Regions from separate parts of the Homo sapiens genome. Here regions 1 and 2 are each linked to region 3. The links come from fine-mapping of genetic effects on gene expression. A gene starts in region 3. Each other region holds a variant in brackets. All regions are shown on one strand. Distances are from middle to middle. Region 1 overlaps RNF213 (ring finger protein 213). Region 2 overlaps RNF213 (ring finger protein 213). Region 3 holds the start of ENDOV (endonuclease V).

What was found. PIP is the estimated chance that this variant, and not a neighbour inherited with it, causes the effect. A credible set is the group of variants that fine-mapping cannot tell apart.
Region 1: its variant is the best candidate, but not a certain one, in a credible set for the expression of ENDOV in whole blood (TOPMed, PIP 0.78).
Region 2: its variant is the best candidate, but not a certain one, in a credible set for the expression of ENDOV in gastroesophageal junction (GTEx, PIP 0.70).

Annotation. Positions count from the first base shown.
Region 1 is chr17:80,302,045-80,310,222 of GRCh38, reverse strand. RNF213 (ring finger protein 213) reads right to left here. Exons shown (of 68, transcript NM_001256071.3): 12 at 3,755-3,971; 13 at 3,022-3,095; 14 at 1,052-1,205. Among named protein-coding and RNA genes, the nearest start is that of RNF213, 45 kb to the right of the region's middle. The variant G/A (reference allele first, on the strand shown) is at 3,385.
Region 2 is chr17:80,372,576-80,380,753 of GRCh38, reverse strand. RNF213 (ring finger protein 213) reads right to left here. Exons shown (of 68, transcript NM_001256071.3): 48 at 8,020-8,178; 49 at 7,589-7,779; 50 at 6,165-6,296; 51 at 4,884-4,994; 52 at 4,211-4,453; 53 at 3,791-3,872; 54 at 2,958-2,992; 55 at 1,040-1,134. All of the region lies in intron 1 of RNF213-AS1 (RNF213 antisense RNA 1), which reads left to right. Among named protein-coding and RNA genes, the nearest start is that of ENDOV, 39 kb to the left of the region's middle. RefSeq lists enhancers at 1-432, 7,787-8,178 and a silencer at 3,998-4,198. The variant T/C (reference allele first, on the strand shown) is at 3,186.
Region 3 is chr17:80,411,210-80,419,387 of GRCh38, reverse strand. ENDOV (endonuclease V) reads right to left here and starts at 4,221. Exons shown (of 10, transcript NM_173627.5): 1 at 4,138-4,221; 2 at 3,567-3,738. The coding sequence starts at 4,193. It overlaps RNF213-AS1 (RNF213 antisense RNA 1), which reads left to right and starts at 4,220. Exons shown (of 2, transcript NR_029376.1): 1 at 4,220-4,459. RefSeq lists an enhancer at 3,699-3,788.

The DNA of each region.
Region 1 (8,178 bases), 110 kb after region 3:
TTCAAACTGAAACTCATGAACTCAAGTGGGTGAAAACTGCACAGAGACGGGAAAGAAGGAATTGCCGATCTCTGCACCACACAGACAGAGCTCAGAGACATGGGGGTGAGTGGGGAAAGTCGGAGGCAGAAAGGTCAAAGCTGGAAGACAGGTAAAACTGATCCATGGGAGGCTGGGCGTGGTGGTTTAAGCCTGTAATCCCAGCACTTTGGAGGCCAAGGCAGGCGGATCATGAGGTCATGAGATCGAGACCATCCTGGCTAACACGGTGAAACCCCATCTCTACTAAAAATACAAAAATTAGCCAGGCGTGGTGGCAGGCGTCTGTAGTCCCAGCTACTTGGGAGGTTGAGACAGGAGAATGGCGTGAACCCAGGAGGCGGAGCTTGCAGTAAGCCGAGATCACGCCACTGCACTCCAGCCTGGGTGACAGAGTGAGACCCCGTCTTAAAAAACAAAAAACAAAAAACAAAAAAAAAACTGATCCATGGGAGAAGTCACAACAGTGGCTTTCTTTGGGACGGAGGAGCCGGGTCATCCTGCCATCAGACCTGGGACACGACATGCAGCGGGGGGCAGATGTGTGGCGCTATGGCCTTTGTTACTGTATTCAAGCTACAATGTCAAGAAGGTGGGAAAGACCATGTTTGGACATGTATTTTTTGGGAGGAAAATGGTCCCCGTAGTTCTCTGCAAACAACAGAATCAAGAAAAAAGAAAAGTCGTCTTCTCCGCGTGGCGTTGCCTGACCCCCAGCCCCTGCGCCAGCTCTCTGGTTTCCCCATGACCAGCTGATGGCCACACATTAACTCCCTGCCTCCCTCCCAGGAAAGCCCAAGGTGGCAGAAGGGCAGACCCTGGCCCACTGACACCCCCCACACCCAGAACAGAACCCAGCATCAAGCAGGTGCACAAGAAATGTCCACTGCTGAAACCACCGCTCCATCTCATCCCAGCACCCGGGAATCAGTCTGTTTCCTTTCCAAATTGAGGCTGCTTGAAATTCCGCACCTATCCCGGGTGTGATACCTTGTGTGTTGACTCCACTTACCACCAGAGATAGAAGTCTAATCATTCTGCAGACAATCTCGGCAGATAAGGCTGGCAGCTCGTAAAACTTAAGTAGCTTTGTGCTGCTGCAGATGGCTTCATGCAGTTTCAGACACACAGTCAGGTAGGATGGTGACAAGGCCTCCTCGGGAATCCTGCCCCGCAAAGAGTTAAGAGAAATCCCGGCAAGGATTTAGGAGAAGCCAGAAAATGGTTACCATTGATGACTAGCTCCTTCCTTCAAAATAACTACCAACAGGGCATTTGTTTGACCTTATCTAGGTTAACGTCTGGAAAATCTCAGTCAGTCCTGAACTTGTGACTAAGATAAAAAGGAAGCAAAGTCCTCTTGTTTTGTCTCTGTAGTCTCAACTGTTCTAACCAAAGCAAGTCCAAACACTCCTCAGTGCGTTCCAAGATGTGAAAAAAGGCAAGGGATGTTTATTACTAGACATTAAAATATGACATAAATTTGAAAAAATATTCAGAAAGAAACAGAAAGGAGGGAGGAAGAGAAAGAAATAGTAGAAGAGCGTGCAGCCCGTGTGGAATTGGCTCCAGCTCTGCCGGGCCTGGGTTTTGTGTTTTCTGAGGGACACATGGACAGAGCAGGGACTTAGGAGGAGCCTTAGGAGGGACTCGGTAGGGACTCGGGAGGAGCCTTAGGAGGGACTCAGGAGGGGACTTAGGAGGAGGCTTAGGAGGGACTCAGAAGGAGGCTTAGGAGGGACTCAGGAGGAGCCTTGGGAGGGACTCAGGAGGGGACTCAGGAGAGACTTAAGAGGACACTTAGGAGGAGCTTAAGAGGAGAGTTGATGGAGGGGACTGGGAAGGCGGTGTAAGAAAGGACTCCCTGGGCTGAGAATGTGACACACAGTGGTGGGGAGATAGGGAGCTTGTGGGGGGGATCCTCAAGTCACAGGTGCTGGATCAACATCGGCAGAGACGTGAACAAAGGAGGTGAACGAAGACTGGAAGTGCCCGAGCCGCTCAGAGAACAGCTCAGACAACACCCATCCCATCGCTCACTGGCACATTTCAGTGGTTCTGCATTCTGTCTGCTGACCCCTCAGGGTATCAGAGGTCACAAATTTGCAGGAGCAAATGATTTTGGATAATTATATAAAGCTACCTTTGATTTTTATCTTAAACTGACTAAGTATTAAAAAAATGCAGAACGCCCACCAGGCATATGCAGTATCATGACTATTTACAAGTAAGGGAAAAATGTATAGGAAAAAAGATCAGGGGGAGATAAACCCAAATCTTAGCAGCTGATATCTATTATTTCCCTTTAAAAAAAAAAAAAAAAAAAAAACAGACGGCCAGGCATGGTGGCTCACGCCTGTAATCCCAGCACTTTGGGAGGCCCAGACAGGCGGATCACCTGAGGTCAGAAGTTCAAGACCAGCCTGGCCAACATGGTGAAACCCCATCTCTACTAAAAATACAAAAATTAGCCAGGCGTGGTGGCATGCGCCTGTAATCCCAGCTACTCAGGAGGCTGAGGAAGGAGAATCACTTGAACCTGGGAAGCAGAGGTTGCAGTGAGCCAAGATGGTGCCATTGCACTCCAGCTTGGGCAACAAGAGTGAGACTCCATCTCAAAAAAACAAACAAACAAACAAACCAACACACAAAAATTAGCTGGGCGTGGTGGGGTGCGCCTGTAATCCCAGCTACTCGGGAGGCTGAGACAGGAGAATCACTTGAACCAGGAGATAGAAGTTGTAGTGAGCTAAGATTGCGTCACTGCACTCCAGCCTGGGCAACAGAGTAAGACTCTGACTCAAAAAAAAAAAAAAAAAAACAGACGACAATATTAATAACCTGAGAAGAGAAGTGGGCCACATATTAATTTATGACCTTGCTGTTACAACAGCACATGTGGGTCACGGCCAATTATAGGGGTCAGAGGAAGCCCCCGGGGGCCGCATGTGAGGGAGAGACTGCATCGTGCTTTCCACTTACTTGTCCCGGTAAGTGTCCAGGAGTCGCAACAGCATTTCTAAAATGTTCTGAACGTTCTGAACATCCTGAACATCCTAAGGCAGAGAAAAAAAGAAAAACAGGACAAAAGATTGAATCACAATGCCACTGTCATTGCTAAAACAGAGCTGAAAAAAATCCAACATCAATATGGTATACATTGTTTTCTTCCTACAAACAAATTTTAAGGTGCTCACATACTAATCTTACCTCTTTTACAGATAAAACTCAGGATTTAAACTTATACCATTTTCTCCACCAAAAAATGTGAAAGGAAGAATGGCAGCTACGAAGTGCATCACATGAGACGCCTTCTTTTTTTTTTTTTTTTTGAGATGGAGTCTC[G/A]CTCTGTCACCCAGGCTGGAGTGCAGCGGCGTGATCTCGGCTCACTGCAAGCTCCGCCTCCCGGGTTCACACCATTCTCCTGCCTCAGCCTCCTGAGTAGCTGGGACTACAGGTACCCACCACCACGCCCAGCTAATTTTTTTGTATTTTTAGTAGAGACGGGGTTTCACTGTGTTAGCCAGGATGGTCTCGATCTCCTGACCTCGTGATCTGCCCGCCTCGGCCTCCCAAAGTGCTGGGATTCAGGCGTGAGCCACCGCACCCAGCCCACTGTCTGTTTTTTAGGAATAAGAATCCTGAGCTTTCCATGTTTAGTTATCTAGTCTGCTTTTGCTAAGCCAGGACTCCAGAGCCGACTTCAGACACAAACCTGCGTATTCAAGACTTGCTCAAGTCCCGGAAGCCGGTAGTAAATCCCTGAAAGACAGTCCAGGATATGAGCAGGAAAACGACCCAGGTGCTCAATGAAGTTTTCCATATACATAACCAGGTGACTCAGAGGTAGCAGACTAAACCAGGACCGGAAGAGAGGCTCGTCTATGCTCAGCAAATGCTGCTTCTCTCTCATAAACTGAAGTAGGGAACTCCTGCATAAGAGAAATAGGGACGGAGAAAAGAGACGCAGTGAGATCAGTGAGGGAAAATGGAGGAAACCAATGCTGGAGGGACAGAAACAGTCCCGAATTCAAAAATGATTTAAATACTACTTGAGGGCAGGCGTGGTGGCTCACACCTGAATCCCAATACTTGGGAGGCTGACTCGGGAGGATCACTTGAGCCCAGGAGCTTGAAACCAGCCTGGGGAACCTAGTGAGGCCCTGTCTCTACTTTAAAAAATAAAATAAAGGCTATGTGGAAAACAAAAATATGCAGTGAATCAAATGAAAAGTACAGAACAACCTACTGAGAATTAACTTAATGGCCGGGCGTGGTGGCTCACGCCTGAATCCCAGCACTTTGGGAGGCTGAGGCAGGTGGATCAGTTGAGGTTAGAAGTTTGCAACCAGCCTGGCCAACACGGTGAAACTGCGTCTCTACTAAAAATACAAAAATCAGCCAGGCATGGTGGCACATGCCTGTAATCCTGTAATCCCAGCTACTCAGGAGGCTGAGGCAGAAGAATCACTTGAGCCCCGGCGGCAGAGATTGCAGTGAGCCGAGATCACGCCACTGCACTCCAGCCTGGGCAACAGAGTGAGACTCTGTCTCAAAAAAAAAAAAGGAAAGAAAAAAGGAGAATTAACTTAATATAGAATTCAGAATACGGAATAAGAATTCACTGCTGGCCATTCTGGGCATGCTCCTATGGGGTAGCCCTGTTCTACAAGGAGCAGTAATATTAAAAAATAGTAATAAAATCAGGCCGGGCGCAGTGGCTCACGTCTGTAATCCCAGCACTTTGGGAGGCCGAGGCAGGCAGATCACCTGAGGTTGGGAGTTCAAGACCAGCCTGACCAACATGGAGAAATCCCGTCTCTACTAAAAATCCTAAATTAGCCAGGCGTGGTGGCGCACACCTGTAATCCCAGCTACTTGGGAGGCTGAGGCAGGAGAATCACTTGAACCCAGGAGGCAGAGGTTGCGGTGAGCCAAGATCGTGCCATTGTACTCCAGCATAGGCAATGAGACCAAAACTGTCTCAAAAAAAAAAAAAGTTCACTGCTGGGTGCAGTGGCTCATGTCTGTAATCCCCACAACTTGGGAGGCCAAAGCAGGAGGATGGATAGCTTGAGGCCAGCAGTTTGAGACCAACCTGGGCAACATAGCAAGATTCCATCTCTACAAATAAATAAATAAATACACAAAAAGAATTCATTGAGATGGATGAATCTTGACATTATGCTCAGTGAAATAAATCAGACACAAAAGGACAAATCCTGTGTGATTCCACTCACGTGAGGTCCCCAGAGAAGTCAAAATCCTAGAGACAGAGAGGAGAACAGTGGTTACCAGGAGGAGGGGGAGTGTGGAGGTCGTGTTTCATGGGGATGGAGTTTCAGCTGGGGAAGCTGAGTTCGGGAGGTGGATGGTGCTGACGGCTACACAGCAGTGTGAATGTGCTTGGTGCCAGGGAACTGTGCCTTGAAAAGGAGTTAACATGGTAAACTGGAGATTATGTATATTTTACAATAAAAGGGATATACCCCAATAATTAAGCCTCTTAATTATTATTATTATTATTTATTTATTTATTTATTTGTGTTGGAGTCTCACTCTGTTGCCTTGGCTGGAGTGCAGTGGTGTGATCTCGGCTCACTGCAAGCTCTGCCTACCAGGCTCACGCCATTCTCCTGCCTCAGCCTCCCCAGTAGCTGTGACTACAGGCGCCTGCCACCACGCCCGGCTCATTTTTTGTATTTTTAGTAGAGATGGGGTTTCACTGTGTTAGCCAGGCTTGTCTCGATCTCCTGACCTTGTGATCCACCTGCCTTGGCCTCCCAAAGTGCTGGGATTACAGGTGTGAGCCACTGCACCCAGCCAAGCCTCTTAATTATTATTAACGAGTGTCCAGGATCAAACAGCCCAAGTGGGCTCAGCGAAGGCCCTTAAATAATGCTGATTCTGGAACACAGTACTGGAGACCCAAAATGTTGACAATGGAAAAGAAATAAAGCAAGGCTCCCTAGAAGTAACAGAAGTTATGAAAAACATATCAATAAAGGTTCACTGCATACTAAAGGCCACTTTTACCTGAACGATTGGATCTTTAGGAACAATGCTACTGCAGACTTTTCAAGATATTTAAAGATAAGTACATAAAAATAGCAATAATAATAAAAGGTACTCTATATTTCTACTATATCTAGCCTTTCTAGGTAAATATGGACCATCCATGGGTCTGACTATATTGACTGTTTTCTCTCTTGATCATCTAGTGGCCTCTTCTGTTATCAGGGGCTGAGTTAATAGTTTAGATGAACTACAGCTTTGTTGTAGCTTTAATTAGAATTGGTTCCCAACGGCTGGCCAGGCACAGTGGGTGGCTCACGCCTGTAATCCCAGCACTTTGGAAGGCTGAGGCGGGCAGATCACTTGAGGCCAGGAGTTCAAGACCAGCCTGGCCAACATGGCAAAACCCATCTCCACTAAAAATACAAAAATTAGCCACATGTGATGTGTGATGACATGCACCTGTAGTCCCAGCTACTTGGGAGGCTGAGGCACAAGAATCACTTGAACCTGGGAGGCGAAGGTTGCAGTGACCAGAGATCGCGCCACTGTACTCCAGCCTGGGCGACAGAGCAGGACTGTCTCAAAAAAAAAAAAAAAAGAAAAGAAAAGAAAAAAGAAAAGGAATAGAATTGGTTTCCAAAGGCTTTTACGCCTTCTAAAGGCAAGACCGTAACACTGCCTTTAGCAGAAGTTGGGATCCAGGGGCACAGAGCAACTGCCTCATTTTTTCTGCTGTCCCCAGTCTTTGGCATTTGGCAGGCTCTGAGCATCATGCTTTATGAGGGGGCGTCTCTTTCAGTTCTCCAGCCCCTTTCCCAATTGGATGGTCACTGTCTTGTTCTCACTGCAAGGCCCAGAGTGCTGCAGTCATTACCTCTGTTCTCCTACCCTACCTTCAGACCTTAGCAGATTCTGTGGCCTGAGCCTCCAGGCTAGGGGAAGGAGGAATTTCCAGAGCTCTCTCATCAATAGGACTTACTGATGTATTAACTGCCTGCCTCTCCAGCTAGAATGCAAGCTCCACAAGGCCAGGAGCAGCTGTCTGTTTTGAGCAGTGCTGTACACGCTGTGCCTTGAGTAGTACTTCCTGGCACAAGGAAGGTGCTCTTCAAGTATTCATCCAGTGAATGAATGAATACATTCTAGCACATTAATAAGAGAAAGACCATTTCAAGGCCAAAATAAATTAATCTATTTTGCTTAGAAGGGTTAATCTGTGGTCATTATGACTGTTCTATTAAATAACCCAGTATTCAGTATTTCAGAGAGATTATACTTAAAGAGAAAGTTTGTGGTTACCTGTCAAGAATCTGAAAATAAAGATGCTTTTATTTCAACTTCTAGGGAATCTGGACTTCTACCACTGCAGCCTTGACCTCCCTGGCTCAAGCGATCCTCTCATGTAAGCCTCCCAAGTAGCTGGGACTGCAGGTACACCCCACCATGCCTAACTATTTTTTTTGTTTGTTTTTTTGTAGAAACTGGGTTTTACTATGTGCCCAGACTGGTCTTGAACTCCTGGCCTCAAACAATCCTCCTGCCTGGGCCTCCCAAAGTACTGGGATTATAGGCATGAGCCACCAAGCCCAGCTGCTTTTATTATTTTTAAACTGACACATAATAATTGTACATATTTATGGGGAACAGTGTTATATTTCTATATATGTATACAATACATAATGTATACAAATGCATACAGAGAATACATTTTATGCACTGTATATACATATAAATATGTCTACAATGTATACTATGTACAAAGTATACAGTCTGTAATCTGTACAAATATATGGATACAATATATATGCATACAGTGTATAATGTGTACAAATCAGGGTAATTAGCATATCTATCTCAAACATTTATTTCTTTGTGTTGGAAACATTCAAACTCCACTCTTCCAGCTATTTGAAAAACGTAATAAATTGTAAATTACAGTCGTTCCATACTGCTCTAGGACCCTAGAACTTACTCGTCCTATCTAGCCATACTTTTGTATCCACTAGCCAACCTTTGGCTAGCCCTCTCCCCATCCTTCCTCGCCTCTCGTAACTACTATTCTACTCTCTCCTTCTAGAAGATCAACTCTTTTCACATCCACGTATGAGTGGGAATATGCAG
Region 2 (8,178 bases), 39 kb after region 3:
TGAGGCTTACGGCTGAGAAGAGAGTTATGTGAAGAGTACTTGCTGTTCCACAAAGCCTGGACCATGTTCCTAAGAGTCTCTCTCATGATAGACTCGCCTTTCCGGTGGACCAGACCCGACCGCATTCTCAGCGTCAGGTGGCTGCGCTGTGTGGTATTGATGCTGATCCCCGGGCAGGGTGTTAAGACGCAGGCCTGGACCCGTCTTTTCCACTGAAGTCTTTGTCAGGAGAGGAGCGGTTGGGCTAAGAACAGCTAGAGTTTGGGAGGACAGTCGGCATCCCATGGGTGTCCATATTGTTCTCATCTCCCCAAAGGAAAAACCGGGATCTAAAGTCCGGCAGAGAGGAGATGCAGTGTGGCCGATGCTCTCAGTGGCAAAACTATTAGAGGATGGAGGACACTGTGACAGTTTCTGGAGATAACATGAAAGTATTTTAAGCTGTGACTGCAGGGAACAGTCAGAATGTGAGGCCCCCACGCAGGTCCCACTCACTCTCTGAAAGGAGCATTTAGAACCACATTCATCTCAGCATGGGATTGTGGGATCGGATTTGTACCTGGATTCTGAAGTCTGGTATTTCATAAGACTATGTCTGTCTCCTTCATTTTTCTCAAAAAATAAAAAATGGAGAAAGCTAAGATTGCTGGCAAGTGAGATGGCATCTGCTGAGACAGACGGATGCCCAGGTTTTGGTCCTGCAGACATAGATGTCCTCGTGAATTAGATCATCTGTTTATGTCATGCATATTTCTACAGAAGGTGCACCCAAGGCCCAAAAGGAAGACACCTGTATTCATATTAACAGCTGTTAAAGGGTAGCCTGCTTTGCATTTCAGGGCCCAGGGATCCAACAACAGATCAGATGCCTCCCTGCTGTGTGACTGCTGGGACTTTGGCATTGCTATTCAATATGACACAGGCCCACATGTACTGGAGTAATTAGTACTATCTTGAGTATCACTTTATCAGCTGGAATAAAAACAGCCCAACACCCCAAAGTTTGAGTACTTAGGAAATAGAATCCTGACCCACATACTTGACCAGATGAAAGCCGTCCCGAGGTTTGTGGTCAATGCCTCCAATCGGCGCATGGCAGTCAATGCAGATGCTCTGTTCCATCGGCCTGCCACACTAGGGTGAAGACAGGGCACTAGAACCACTTCTGGAGCAGTACCATTTTATGCACAAATGCCATCATGCAAATGAACACCTCCTTATCACCGGCAGACGTGAGCACCCTCAGATTGTCCCAGTGTGTGCTTGTTTCGGGTGGGTGGAGAACCCATGGGAACAGGGTAGGTACTCACTAATGTTGCACGTGGGCAAACTGGAACTGTTTTTTAAATAAGTGAGACAATTTAAGCTTTATTCCCAGAGTGACACTTTATAGACAAATATATAAAATTCAACCTTCCTTTCTTGTATTCAGCACTTTTTCCATCCCTCCATCTATCACACTAGCCTGTGGCACTTCATGATCTAATACCAAGAATACTAGAAGAGCTTCCAAACTGACTTCCTTATATTCATTTGGACTTTTTCATATATCAATTTTTATGAGACAGAGCCTCGCTCTGTCCTCCAGGCTGGAGTGCAGTGGCACCATCACGGCTCACTACAGCCTTGACCTCCCCAGGCTCAAGCAATCCTCCTACCTTAGCCTCCCAAGTAGCTGGGACCACACGCATGCACGCATGCACGCATGCACCACCATGCCCTGCTGATGCTTTGTGTTTTTTTGTAGAGACGGGGTTTCAACATGTTGCCCGGGCCAGTCTCAAACTCCTGGGATCTAGCAATCCACCTGCCTCAGCCTCCTGAAGTGCTGGGATTACAGGTGTGACCTACCACACCTGGCTTGGACTTTTTTATTTAAAAAAATCTAATCACATAATCTACTTCCAAAGGCTTATTTTTCAAAATCAGATATTGTGCCACAATATACTGAGAGTCACGGCTGATAACACACCAAACCAGTTACAGAATTTCAGAGCTGGGAGCATTCTTGGATAGACTCTATTTCAGCGTCCTCATTTCATGGACAAGGAAGTGATTGAAGCTCAGAAAAATGAAGTGTATGTAACAGTTTTTCTCCCTCCGTATCTCTTATATACATTATTAAATGACGTGTATCAGGCTGGGCACAGTGGCTCATAATCCCAACACTTTGGGAGGCCGAGGCGGGAGGATCGCTTGAGCCCAGGAGTTCAATGTTTATAGTGAGCTATGATCATGTCACTCTGCACTCCAGCCTGGGTAAGAGAGCCAGACATATCTCAACCAAGTAAGTAATACTAATAACTAACTACCACGTGTCAGCTCAACCCACCAGCCTCTTGCTCAGCAAGTACAGATACTGTGTATGGAGGGCTCTAGGCTAGATGCTTGGGAATCCAGAGAGGAATAATCAACAGTTCTTCCCCCATGGCGCACAGCCTACACGTGGCTTTTTCCTTTGGCATCTGGACCACACCTCCTCTGAGGGCTAATAATGCAGCCTGTGGTCCAGGCAACACCTTGCCATTCTATCAAGACAAGGCTCACTGACCCCATGCTGCAGTGGCTAGAAAGAATGGCTAGCAGCAGTTCCCAACCAGTAGCAATTTTCTTTCCTAGGGGACCTTTGTCAATGTCTGGTTTTAGCTGTCACACTGGGAGGAGTGGGTGCTCCTGGCATCCAGGGACTCGAGGTCAGGCATACTGCCAGACAGCCTGCAGTGCACAGGACAGCCCACGCCGCAGAGCCACGTCCACAGTGCTGAGTCTGAGAAGCCCTGGGCTAGAAACCCTTAGCGCCATTGGCATTGCCCTGCTCAGAGCACCCTGGGCAGTCCTCGGTGAGCCTGTGCTCTCCTGGAAGGCCGAGAGCCTCACTCTCCTGACCCACGATCCCCCTCCTCCAACCCAGGAGTGCACGCCACCCCTCAAACCCTATCTTAAATACCAAGACTCACCTCTCCCACGGAGCAAGGATGGCCGTTGGGACAAGCTGTGAAGAGAACAGGACACACATTGGCTAATGAGGTTTCACCCAATGACCCACATTGAAAAGGGAAAGCTAACTCTCTACTCTCTGGCCCTGACCACAATATGAGAATGACTGTCCAGAGCATCCCACGCTAATTTGTTAAGTTACATGACACCTGCCTGAAGCTTAATAAATGTATGTTGTCAGTGAAAAA[T/C]GTCTGAGTCTAATTTTATTAATTTTATCAAGTAAAGAGCAATTAGAATATAGGCCCATACCAGGGGTACTTTTGGAGGCAAGGTGGACAGGATTCTAGACCTTTCTATTTTCCTTGATTTTTTTTTTTTTGTCATGAGCATATTTTATAACAACTTTAAAAACTAGTTTTAAAATATTTACTCAGGCAACAGCAAAATTTACATGTCATGGGTTATATGAGTCAGTCTCCCGGTTCTATATTTCATATATTTCAGAAGAGCTTTGTGTCAAAAACTTTGTTTTGTGGTGGGCCTTTGAATGCGTCTCTGATGTGGTTCCCAGTCCCTCCCTTCTCCCAAAATGGCATATTCCAGAGAACAGAAGTGCATCACAGAGGGCCTTTTCCACACGACAAAGAAATGAAATGGTTTGGATCATCTAGCCGGCGGAGTGCCAGCTCCTTCAAGCCATTCGTCTTCTGCAGACGCCACCGGTAGAATGCAGGTGGTTTTGGACCCTGAGGCACAAACCACGTGGACCCCAAGTCGAACCCAATGCTTCATAGCATCTGGACACCCTTTGAAGCTCAAAGGAGTGTGGGGTCATCTAGACCCCAACACTTACTGTACCAGTGGACTCGCTCCAGACCCTTCCACCTCCGAGCTTGAGCCAGCAAGTCTTCAGGCATGGTTGGAAGAAAAGCATGCTGAAAAACAAGAAGACAGAGACAGCTCTAGATAAGTGAGCTTGTCACCTGGGTGCTGCTGCTCAGCAGGAGGCCTAGAGGAAGAAAGGGAACTCTGCTTTCCTTCTGCTGGACTTCTCAAGCTGTCTGTGAAGAAAACAGAACAGCTTCCTGTGAAATAACAAAGGGCAAGGCAAGTCTGTCACTATCTTGTGTGCTCAAGAATCAGGTGACACAAAGGCAGAGAACTGAGGAGATAAAGATGCTCAAGAGTTCCCACAGCTGCAGCTCGGTCTCTACAGTGACAAGCTCTGGGGGGTGTTCCAGTGAAGGCCGATGGAATTGTGGCCTACTCTTACCGCCATGGTGGCTGGGGAGAAGGCCAGATTCTTTAGGGGCTCCAAGAGTTCATTCTGTCCACACAGAAGGACGGCTGCAGCATGAATGGCCATTTCTGTCACCGTTCCATCAAGGTTGCTGTCACTAGGCCCCGCCCTCAACAATGGCACAGAATTGTCCACGAGCGATGTTGCAAAACGGCTGATATCAGGAGGTGAAAGGATCTTGCATTCGCCAATGAATTTGCTCACAGCTTCACATTGCTGACAGGAAAAAAACTTAACATTAAGATGTATCAAAGAATATTGTGTGAATTGCTCTTAGACATACACTGACACCAAATACACATCAAATATCAAGGTAAATATGGAGAAATCACCACCATTTGAGGGGGAAATTTTTCAGAGAAGAGAATTGTGCATATACAAACACAGCATCCACATACGTAAGCATTAATTTTGATATTCTATTCTGTTAAACATTATCTTATGTTCTTGGCTTTAGTTTTCATTATAATTCTACAAGCTTTGGGTTAAACAGCTTGGTTATGTGTTCCTCCACATAACAAGGTTGAGAACCTCTATCCTAGATAAAAAAATTATGGTATGATTTGTGTTGATAACTTTCATTCTATTCAATAAAATCCCTCCAAATACTGAGACTTTGAACACAGCCCTGCAGGCGGTTACTCACCTCTGGCGTGGGGTGGAGGCTTGCATTGTGGGATCTGTACAAAATAGCCACCTCTCTAAACAGTGTTAACAGGAAGTAGGCTGACTGCTGGCTTTGGGGGGTCTTGCAGGCCTGCAAAATCAAGGGTATCAAGTAAGAATTTAAAAGCTCAACACATCTTTTTTTTTTGAGATGGAGTCTTGCTCTGTCACCCAGGCTGGAGTGCAGTGGCATGATCTCGGCTCACTGCAACCTCTGCCTCTCGGGTTCAAGCGATTCTAACTCAGCCTCCCGAGTAGCTGGGACTACAGGCACACGCAACCATGTCCGGCTAATTCTTTTTTTTTTTCTTTTAGTAGACACGGGGTTTCACCATGTTTGCCAGGCTGGTCTCAAACTCCTGACCTTGTGATCTGCATGCCTCGGCCTCCCAAAGTGCTAGGATTATAGGATAGACGCCCCCGCACCGCTGCCTGCCAGATCTACCTAAGGGCCAGAGGCCCACGAAGTTTGCATGTGAAAAGAAACTTTTCACATGCCTCAGCCCTCAACCCACCAAAAGGGAAGGAGCCTTTTCCAGGCCTGGACACCTGGGGTCATGCCCCACATGGGCAGTCTTCTGGCGAGCAACTTTTGGGCTACAAAGTTCCTGAAATACTCTCAGATTAAACTCAACGCATATTTAGCAGCCAGCTTAATGACAGAAGCAACGGAATCACCATCTGTTCTTCTGACTCCTTCACTGGTCTTAGAAACTTCTGAGCAGAAAGAGGATTTTCCATTTCCTCTTTTCCTGGCACAGGGACTCAAAAAGGAAGCAAGACCAGACCAATTTAAAGGTTAGATTCTAAAAACATCTTTATATTTTTTAACTTCCCACACTACACCAACATATGTATTTTTATTAAACACACATGCATATCTGAATTATGAATACATCTAGGTATGAATTTTGCTATTAATAGTTGTGTCAGCATCTTTCTTAGACTGTTTTCCAGCAGGGTCTCAAAGGAAGTAATGGGCATAAATCAAAAGGCGCTGCTGATGGACTTGGCAGATCAGCAAGACACAGCAAATCTGTCAACCCAGCTCAACTGTCATAGCTGTCCTGTTCCAGCCACTGGTTCACGCACACTAGCCAGGTGCGCCCTGGAGGCTGTGGGCACGTGACTTCCAATACAGTGTCACGTGATGGGCTGCATCAGTGGTCCATCACCCTGCATCATTTGACATAAACCAGGGAACATGCAGGCTCCAAGGGATGCCACCTGGTATCAGAGAGAAGCCACGGGCCCATCCTACCTTCAGAGCAGTCTTAATGCCCAGTGGCTTGCACTCGAGGACAGCTTTGGCCACAGCATCACGGAGAGCCTTGTATTCATCGCCGTACACCAGGTACCTATCCATCTGGCCTGGGTGGTCCTGCCGCAGCCCCTGGAATACAGAGGTTAGTTGGGGGTGAACAATGGGAGGAATGTCTTGCAAAGAACCGTCTGAACGGGTACAGGAACCAGGTGGTTGATCATTCGAGGTTTAAAGGCAGCCAAGCTGGGATTCCCTGACCTGGCCTGAGGCAGGACAGTCTGGTGCCCTCTTCGCAGGGAGCTTCCTCCTCAGTAGACGAAGAGGTGCAAGTGCAGGGAATGCCTGCCGACGGCAGCGCTACCTGGGGAGGTGCTTGCTTCCTCCGTTTGCGGCGCACCGCACCACACCTGAGGCCGGGTGGCTCAAGTCATGTCAACTCTAAACCCCAGGTGGTAGTCAAACAGTGCCGGGGTTCTTAGTACCATTTTTGTATCCCCTGGACAATAAGAATTTGTTAATTTCTGGGTATCTGGAAAGGACCACTGAGAGGCCTTGAAGCCTCTTTTTTTTTTTTTTTTTTTTGAGACGGAGTCTCGCTCTATCGCCCAGGCGCTGGAGTGCAGTGGTGCAATCTCGGCTCACTGCAACCTCTGCCTCCCGGGTTCAAGTGATTCTCCTGCCTCAGCCTCCCGACTAGCTGGGATTACAAGCACCCACCATCATGTCCAGCTAATTTTTTTTTTCTTTGAAGTAGAGACAAGGTTTCACCATGTTGGCCAGGCTGGTCTTGACAAACTCCTGACCACAAGTGATCCGCCTGCCTCGGCCTCCCAAAGTGCTGGAATTACAGGTGAGAGCCACTGTGCCCAGCCTGGCCTTGAAGCCTCTTCTGCAATTCTTCTATTCCTAGTTCTTGCTCTTGCCTGTCTCTGCCTGCCAGAGGTAAAAAGGTCGCACCTTGCAAGCTGAACTACGTTTAATTCGCTGAAAGCAAAGGCCACAAGAATGTTCTACTTTCCTTGAGTGAAATTCAATTAGAAGTGATGCCTAATTAAAGAAGCTCTGAGGTGAGTGCCCTCACCTTGGCCCTACAGCAGGCAGTGTAAACATGATCACAAGCTGGGGCAAATCAGCTGAAGCACAGAGACAAAGGACCAGACAGACAAGCGGCAGGTTTCCTTCCTGGCTCTGGGGATGCTAAGGGCAGGCGGAACGCGGAAGCAGTGGCACCATCCCTGGGTGTGAGGGTGAGGTGTGGGGGTGTGAGGGTGAGGTGTGGGGGTATGAGGGTATGTGGTGGGGAAGGTGTGAGGGGGTGGGGTGTGGGGGGGGTAGGGTGTGAGGGTAGGGGGGTGTGTGGGTTTGGGGTGTATGGGGCTGTGGGGGTGCATGTTTGTGTGCTGCCCGGCCCCGCTTCTCACCTGCTGCTTGACAACGTCCTTGGGAAACACCCACTGGTGCGGGCGGCCGGGCTTGGAGAGGCCCTGCACGAACTCCATCCCCCGCTGGCTGCTGAGCTTCCGCACCAGGTACACCCGGTGCCAGTCGTTCTCCACCCGGATACAGAACTGCTTGACTTGCTGCAGGTAGCACTGCTTCTCCTTGGCCATCTCTGAGAGGCCAACGAGAAAGCGGGTGAGTGGCTGGTGACTTAGGGCATTTATTGTAGGACACAAGGCCAACCAGAGGGCATCGGACCTACCCACAGGCATTCACAGAAACACATCCAGGGGAGAGGGGATGTAGAAAAGCCCAGTAGTAGTCTATTCGAAGAACTAGTTTCCCATACTTCCTGAATTTCTAAATAACGGAGTCTTTAAACCCAAAGGAAAGCAAGGCAGAGAAGACTTGCCTGGGCCTCCCTCAGGCTCCGAGAGGAAATCTGCAGCTCTGTCGAGGCAGAGGCGGATCCGGGCCACCTCTTGCAGGTATTCAACCGAGGCCTCGTTGGCAGGCTCTCGGCCCCGGCTTGCTGGAGAATATGCCTTAAGGAAACGACCTTCCTCTTCTA
Region 3 (8,178 bases):
CTGGCACAGAACGGGCTCCGCCATCGTTTGTCAGGGATGCTAAGGACAGTGTTCTTCACGGTGGGAAAAGCAGGCCAGTGGTTCTCCAGCCCAGCTCTGCTTCAGAATCACAGGAAAGCTTATTTTAAAAAGCAGATTCTTATGCTATACTCTGGGAGAGTTTTTCCCCCAGTAAGTGGGGTAGGGCTCTGGAATCTGTTTTTTTTTTTTTTTTTTTGACAGAGTCCTGCTCTGTTGCTCAGGCTGGAGTGCACTGACGCGATCTCGGCTCACTGCAAGCTCCGCCTCCCAGGTTCACGCCATTCTCCTGCCTCAGCCTCCCGAGTAGCTGGGACTACAGGTGCCCGCCACCATGCCCGGCTGATTTTTTTTGTATTTTTAGTAGACACAGGGTTTCACCGTGTTAGCCAGGATGGTCTCGATCGCCTGACCTCGTGATCCAGCCGCCTCAGCCTCCCAAAGTGCTGGGATTACAGGCATGAACCACTGCGCCCGGCCTGTTTTTTTTCCTAACAGGTTTACTGAGATACAATTAACATACCATAAAGTTCACTTGTTTAAAACATATAATGCGATGGTTTTGGTATTTACAGAGTTGTGCAATATCACTACAATCTAACTTTAGAACATTTTCCTTAACCCCTAAATAAACCTCATCCTCATCAGCAGTCACTTCCCATCCATCCCACCCCAACTCCAAGGCCCAAGGATCCACTTTCTGTCTCTGTGGATGTGCCTACGGAATCTGTTTCTCAACACACTTCTGGGTGATTCTGCTCCTGCAGGTCCACGGTCGGGCATTCAGGAACCAGTGGACCAGACTGTTCCAAGATCCTTTCCTAGTCTAAGCTTTCATAGCCGGAACAATGAATACCGACGAAGTAGCAGGTGCTTTGCTTGGTGCTGGGGTTGTAAAAGAAATATGGTACACCCTACTCTTGAGAACCTACAGTCAGTGGGAAAAATGGAATCATAAATGACTAACTTTAATACAATGTGAGAAGCGCTCTAACAGCATGTGCATTCAAAAGAGGCCCAGGATGCAGATGAGGTGATTAATTTGCAGCCAGGAGAAGTTGGAGGGGGAAGGGAATGCTGTGTTAACTGCTTTCCATGCATTTCATGTACTGCTCATCACAATTCTGTGAGCTGGATATTAATACCACTATCATCCTCAAGTCAGAAAAAAGGAGACAGAGGCCTAGAGGGCAAAGTGGGGAGTGGCAGAGTTGGGTGTGAGCATGAGTAGTCAGGACCCTAAGACTGTGTCCCCACTCCCTATGCTAGCCTACACAATGGCCAGGGGACCTCTTAGAGTAGGGGCTGCTGAATATCCCAATCTTAGCACACAGTAGGCACTCAGTACATTTTTGCTTGATTTGGACTGAAAAGGGCCTCCCAAGTAAAGCACAAAGCCATGGAAGCAGGAAGACGTTTGTCACCTTCGGGAGTCAGCAGAGGAGCAATGCGAGTGACGCCAAGAGGCTTCCGGAGCTGTTGACTCTTATGTGAATCATGAGCCCACTGTCCATTCACACACGTATCTCTTGAAGGAAGAGTCCAGCGTCTTCCTCATGCTATCCATGGTGGGCAAAGCAACATGGTTTCTACCATCATGGAGTTTATATTCCAGTAGGGAAGACAGGCCAGTTCCATCCCAGCAAGACAAGAGGAAGCAGAGGGTTGCTACGGTCTAAATGCTGGTGTCCTCCCCAAATTCCTATGTTGAAATTATAACCCATAGGTGATGGTATTACGAGGTGGGGCCTCTAGGGAGGTGAGTGGATCACCATGTGAGAACACGGTTAAGAAGCTGGCCCTGTGCAACCTGAAAGAGCGCCGTCACCACAACCTGATTGCGCTGGCACCCTGATCTTGAGCCTCCAGCCTCCAGAACTGTGAGAAATAAATTCCTGCTGTGGGTAGGCCACCCAGTCTAAGGTATTCTATTACAGCAGCCCAAACGGACTAAGACATGGTGCTGAGGGACAAGTCCTCGTCTTGTGGGATGAGAGGGAGCTTAGTGGAGGACGTCATGTCTAAACTGAGCCCAAAGAGATGAGTAGTAGTTAGCCAGATGGAAACCCTTCCAGAAGAAACATTACTGCAAAGGTCAGGCCGCCAAATACAGCGTAGCAAACACGTGAGGGACTCACAGTGGGCTGTAGGAGGTGGGAAGAACTGAGAATAGTGGTGAGGGCTGAGCCTCCAGCGTCATATTAAATTACGCAGGGGACAGGTCATGACGGGCCTTGAAGCCATGCCAACCAGAGTGAACTTTATTCACCATGAGGTCATGAGAAGGGCACTTCAATGTTCTAAGAGGACTTGTGGGCTGGGTGTGGTGGTTCCCACCTGTAATCTCAGCACTTGGGGAGGCCAAGGTAGGAGGATCCCTTGAGCCCAGGAGCTGGAGACCACCCTGGGCAACATAGTGAGATCCTGTCTCTACAAAAAATAAAAAAATAAGCCGGGTGTAGTGGCTCACACCTGTGGTCCTAGCTACTCAGGCTAAGGTGGGAGGATCACTTGAGTCCAGGAGGTTGAGATCAGATCTTGACAGTGAGCCAAGATTATGCCACTGCACTTCAGCCTGGGCACAGAGTGGGGGAAGGGGAAAGGAAGGAAAGAGAGACAGAGAGAGGAAGGAAGGGAGGAAGGAAGGAAGGAAGGAAGGGAGGGAGGGAGGGAGGGAGGGGACTTGTTGCTTTTGAGGAAAATACTTGCTTTTTAGGAAAATTGGTCTGCTGGCAGTATGGAAAAGAAACCACTGAGGAGGAACATTTGAGCCAGGGCACCCATGAAAATGCTGCTCAGGAACCCACAGGAGTGATGGTGGCACAGCCAGGGAAGGAGCAGAGGGGAAACAGACAAGGGGACAGATTCCAGCGACATTTAAGAGGCAGAATAAAAGCGAGCTAGTGTGCAACTGGACGCGAGAGGAACGGAGGGGCCCAGGAGGATGCAGATCTCCAGCTTGGGCAACTGGGAGCGTGGTGGACAGGTCACTGAGATGAAGAACCCAAGATAACAATCAGACTTGAAGATAAAGCTCATGAGCTGATTCTTAATAGTCACAGAATTCCCTTAATTTTTGCCTTTTTTTCCCTTCCAAGACTCCCCAGACTTTTTTTTTTTTTTTTTTTTTTTGAGATGGAGTTTCGCTCTTGTTGCCGAGGCTGGAGTGCAATGGCGTGATGTTGGCTCACCGCAACCTCCGCCTCCCGGGTTCAAGCGATTCTCCCGCCTCAGCCTTCCGAGTAGCTGGGATTACAGGTATATGCCACCACACCCGTCTAATTTTGTATTTTTAGTAGAGACCGGGTTTCTCCATGTTGGTCAGGCTGGTCTCGAACTCCCGACCTCAGGTGATTCCCCCGCCTCAGCCTCCCAAAGTGCTGGGATTGCAGGCGTGAGCCACCGCGCCCGGCCAACTCCCCAGACTATTAATGACATCCTACAAAACGAGAAGCCGGGTTCTACGCTTGCACTGCTCCCTGTCCCGGAGACCGCACGCCCGAGCCCACCGAGGGGCCCGCCTCGAGCTCGGCGTCCTCCCAGGTTACCTCGAGCTCAGGGAAGCTGAGCACCACCAGGGAAGCACAAGCGCGGACACTGTCCCCTTTCACGAAGGACACGTCAACGCCCCCGACCCTCTGCAGACCCGAGAAGGCGGGGTCTCGCTGCCACGCCTCGGTGTCCCGGTCTACGACGTGGGCCTTCAGCCGAGCTTGCTCCCTAGGAGGACAGAAGCGTCAAACTTGGTCGGGGTCACACCTCAGACTCTGCCTCCTCCACCCGCGCGGCTGCAGCGGACAGAGCGCCTCTGCCGGGTCTTCTCCCGCTTCAAGGGAAAGCAAGGGACATACCGCCGAGGCCACAGTCCCTAGGAGCCCAGGCGGCGGAGACCCGCGCAAGCGCAGGCCAGACAAACTGGCCGGAAGCGAGAACCGCGCCCACCCCGCGGACTACAATTCCTGAGATCCCTCCGCTTCCGCGCCGGAAACTGGGCTTTGCTTTGGAGTCTCGGGCGGTGGCAGCTCCGATTCCACAGCCTGAAGACTATGAGCTCGGAGGGTCCGCGAAGGGCCGCCCGGCCTCGGCCCCCGCCTCCTGCGCGTCGCCTGACAGCATTACCGTTTCCACAGTGACAGCGTTTCCTCCGGCGGCCCTCCCGCCGCCTCCAGGGCCATGGCTTCGTCCCGGGCACCCCTTCCGCACGTCACTTCCGGAAGCGACTCGCTCTGACGCCGTCCGCCCTCGTTGCCATGGAGACGCTTGCGCTTTCCCGGGCCGCACTTCCCACCCGGGTCTTCAGAAGCCCGTGGCCGCTGGGTGAGCCCCTGCGTGAACGCACACGCACGCACACGGCTTCAGGTTGCCCCGCGGCGCCGCGCGCGATATCGGCTCGGATCCCGGGAGGCCGTCCGCCCCTTTTTCAGCGGATAGCTGAGGCCAGGTAAGTGACCGCGCGAGGACCCGGGAACTCCGTGACGCCCGTCCCGCCTCTGCTGTCCCCGCCGCAAGCGCTGCGCTCTGCACGGCGAGAGGGGCCTCTTGCCCTGTTGAGAGCCGGCGGGCACGGCACTTCTGCGCTTGGAAAAGGGTGGTCCAGCACTGCAGGTCCCACTCCTTGGCCCGGTCAGCGTCCGCCTTTGCTGAACCCCGAAAGGATTCACCAGGTCCAGGACAGCCCGGCAGTTGCCTCAGGAGCACTTACTGAGCGCCTGTCGTTGACGCCCCCACCTCGATGGCAGCTCAGGGGTGCCCTCAAGCTTTTGAGGGCAGGTGTCGTGTATTTAAATTCTTCACAGTTTAGCGGGCTGGACTCACGGGGGTGCTGCAGACTTGGACGGGGTTTCATCTGGGTCGGACCTTGCTGGGCAGAAAGCTTCTCCTACCAGACAAAGTACGGCGACCTTGGGGGGTCTTGGTTCTTACCTCGTGTTCCTCATTGAATGAGTGTTGGTTCAGTGCTCTCGCTGTGCCAGGTGTTGTGCGAAGTACTGTGAGGGAGAATATGTATTTATTTGTGGGGAGCCGACTTTAAACCGGTGGTTGGGAAAGGCCTGAGAGGCGATATTGAAGACACCTGAAGGGTGAGTGAAAGAGCACGGCGGGTGAGTGGAGCAGCTTTCTCGTGCAGGTCCCGGGGTGGGAAAGAGGTTGGTGTATTTGAAGCACTGAAAGGCAGCCACTGAAGCTGAAGTGTAGCAGTTTAACCCATGGTTTTATATTCTCCTGGGAGGATTCAGAAGGGTGTATGTGTGTATGTATATATAATAGCCTGAATATAAACGTCAAGGGTGTTAGGTTTTGAAGGGAAGGTGAAGGTTAAAGAATGACGCACAGTGAGATTGCCGGCGCGCGGGCGGCTCTACAGCAACACAGGTGTATTGCAAACACCTGTCGGGGGCCAGCTTAATGCCAGAGCCCACCAGCGATTACAGGCTGGGGTACTCATAGGCCTGGGCAGGAGGGATCTAGGCAGTATGGCTTGCTGTCCGGGAAGATGTTAACGTGTTCCCAGGATGAGGTGGTTCCGGCAGAATGTGGTGTTCCTGGCGCTTTGTCCCAGCAGAATATGTTAAGAGGCAGGCTGTTTCTCATGGCTCGAACCCCCGTGGAATGTTTCACTTTGACCAAGGTCTACAAAATGGAAAGGGGCTTACAAAATGACGCAGTTTGGACTAACAAAGGGGAAAATACAGAGGATGAAATTAGACTCTAGAGGTTGAGGCTCAGGAAAGGCTTCATACAGCTTTGGGAACTGACAAGGCTTTGAAAGCAGGGTCAGTTTTCAGCGAATGAGCGTCACCCACTGCACCCTGCGCACCCTGCTCCCCTGCTGCGGTGTCTTTCCCACCAGAGTGTAGCAGGACAAGCCGCAGACAAAACCCCTCAGACACCGAGTTAAAGAAGGGCTTTATTCAGCTGGGAGCTTCGGCAAGACTCACGTCTCCAACAACCGAGCTCCCCGAGTGAGCAATTCCTGTCCCTTTTAAGGGCTCACAACTCTTCAGGGGTCTGCGTGAGAGGGTCGTGATTGATTGAGCAAGCAGGGGGTACGTGACTGGGGGCTGCATGCACCCGTAATTAGAACGGAACAGAACAGGACAGGGATTTTCACGGTGCTTTTCTATATAACGTCTGTAATCTATAGATAGCATCACTGATTAGGTCAGGCGTCGATCTTTAACTACCAGGCCCAGGGTGTGGTGCAGGCTGTCTGCTTGTGGATTTCATTTCTGCCTTTTAGTTTTTACTTCTCTCTTTGGAGGCAGAAATTGGGCGTAAAACAATATGAGGGGTGGTCTCCCTTATTCTCCCTCTCTGAGAATCTCACTCAGTAGTGGGAGTTGTCACTTTTATTTTTACTACCTATGTTTTCTTGCAAGACAGATCGATAGTGATTCATATAGTACAGTTGTGCTGAAGCATTTTGGTGAACTAAGGTAGCGATGAAGCTTTTTATCATTTGAAGAAGTATGGGTAGCAAACAAGGGAGCAGAACGCAGGTTTCTATTGCTATTGTAACTCCTAATATAAGAGTTTTAAATCTTTTTAGTGCTGGGAACCATTTTCCAAACATGGCCCCAGGACCAAATCCATGCCACACTTGCACGGGCACATGTGCCAGTTTTGTCATATTTCTAACTGTGTCTTCAACTAATTGCCCTCGATCATCTATGTGTAGACAGCAATTAGTAAGGTTAAATTTTTTACAGACCTCTCCTTCAGCTGCTAGCAAGTAGTCGAGAGCCAATCTATTTTGATAGATAGCATTTCTCATCTGAGTTTCTTGCCAGGCCAGAATAGTCAAGGCTCTGCCGGTCTTATTAGTGATTATTTCTAAGACAGCTTGTAACCGTATGATTCGGTTGAGCATGTAAATGGGGGTCGGGTATCCCTAGGAGCCATCTTGTGCCTAAGTACCAGGCCCATAATATTGTATGATTCTTTCAGGGGGCCATGTATTATCTTTTGAATTTTTTATAGCTATGCTTCTCTTTTTGCGGGAAGCACAGACAGGGAAGCCCAGGAGTTCGCCTGTCTTTATGGGCAGTAGGAAGAAAGATGGTTTAATAGTGCCAATAACATGACTACCTGCCCACTGGTCGGGTAATTTGGTGTAAACTCTATGCCTACATATCCAGTATAATCCAGTGGGGGCTGTCCAGTCCCTGTGGGACTCCGGGTGGGTTCACACAGTTTGCAACTTTGGGAATTTACTAAATGGATTTTTCTTAGTGTGGTTTGAACTCCACTAGGTGGCTGTTTTTGTAGTAGTATTATACAGTTTTTGCCTAAGCAGCTGAGTCTTCCCACAGGAAAGGTGAAGTCCTTCCCCACTCTTGCTATATACAGTATTGTCTAATGATTGAGGCTTTTAGGACCCAGAAGTTATCAGGGTGATTCTTTTGAGCCGGGAATTCATCAGGAACTGGGTCTGTAGGTACTAATTCTCGGGCTTCCCGTGGCCATTGATCTCCCATTACAGTTCGTCCACACACATAACATGAAGTGACATTGAGAGACTGGGCCACATGCTCGGCTAATTGCAAAAACAAATGTCTTGTTTTTCCTGGAATTTCTGGTGCAGGCACATTCAGTTGATCATAGAAGGTTTGAAATACTGTCTCAGGAGAGCGTTTATAAATTTCTCCTCAAACCATGATATTTACTCAAGGATCCAGTTCAGCCCCATTGATTCCTAGGGTTACATGCTCCCCTTTTTTCCAGCGAGGATCAAGGGGGTTGGTTATTACTAGTTCTAAGGGGTTACACTGACCACTGGTACAGGAAGGGCCACTTTTTCCTTTTTGAAGGTGGACAGGATCCTTTTTATTTTTTATTTAAGTAGCCTAAATGACACAAGACCAGTATTTACATTTATTTCCACACAGTTTTAATTTATGACAAATGTACTTATTTTTTGTCATATGGCCTCTTTTCTAATTAAGGGAACCACATTCTATTTTTAACTTATTACTATTAATGACAGCACAGGCATCAAACTTTAAAGTGACTTGTTTGGGCACCCCTTTTTCTTTCATTTTGGCTAACACTTTACTCGTATCGTTTATGAGTCCCTACCAGTCCTCAGTCCTTAATCTTATTTCAAAAGCTGTGGTCATGGGAGACTCAGGTCATAACACACATCAGGTTGGTCATTTC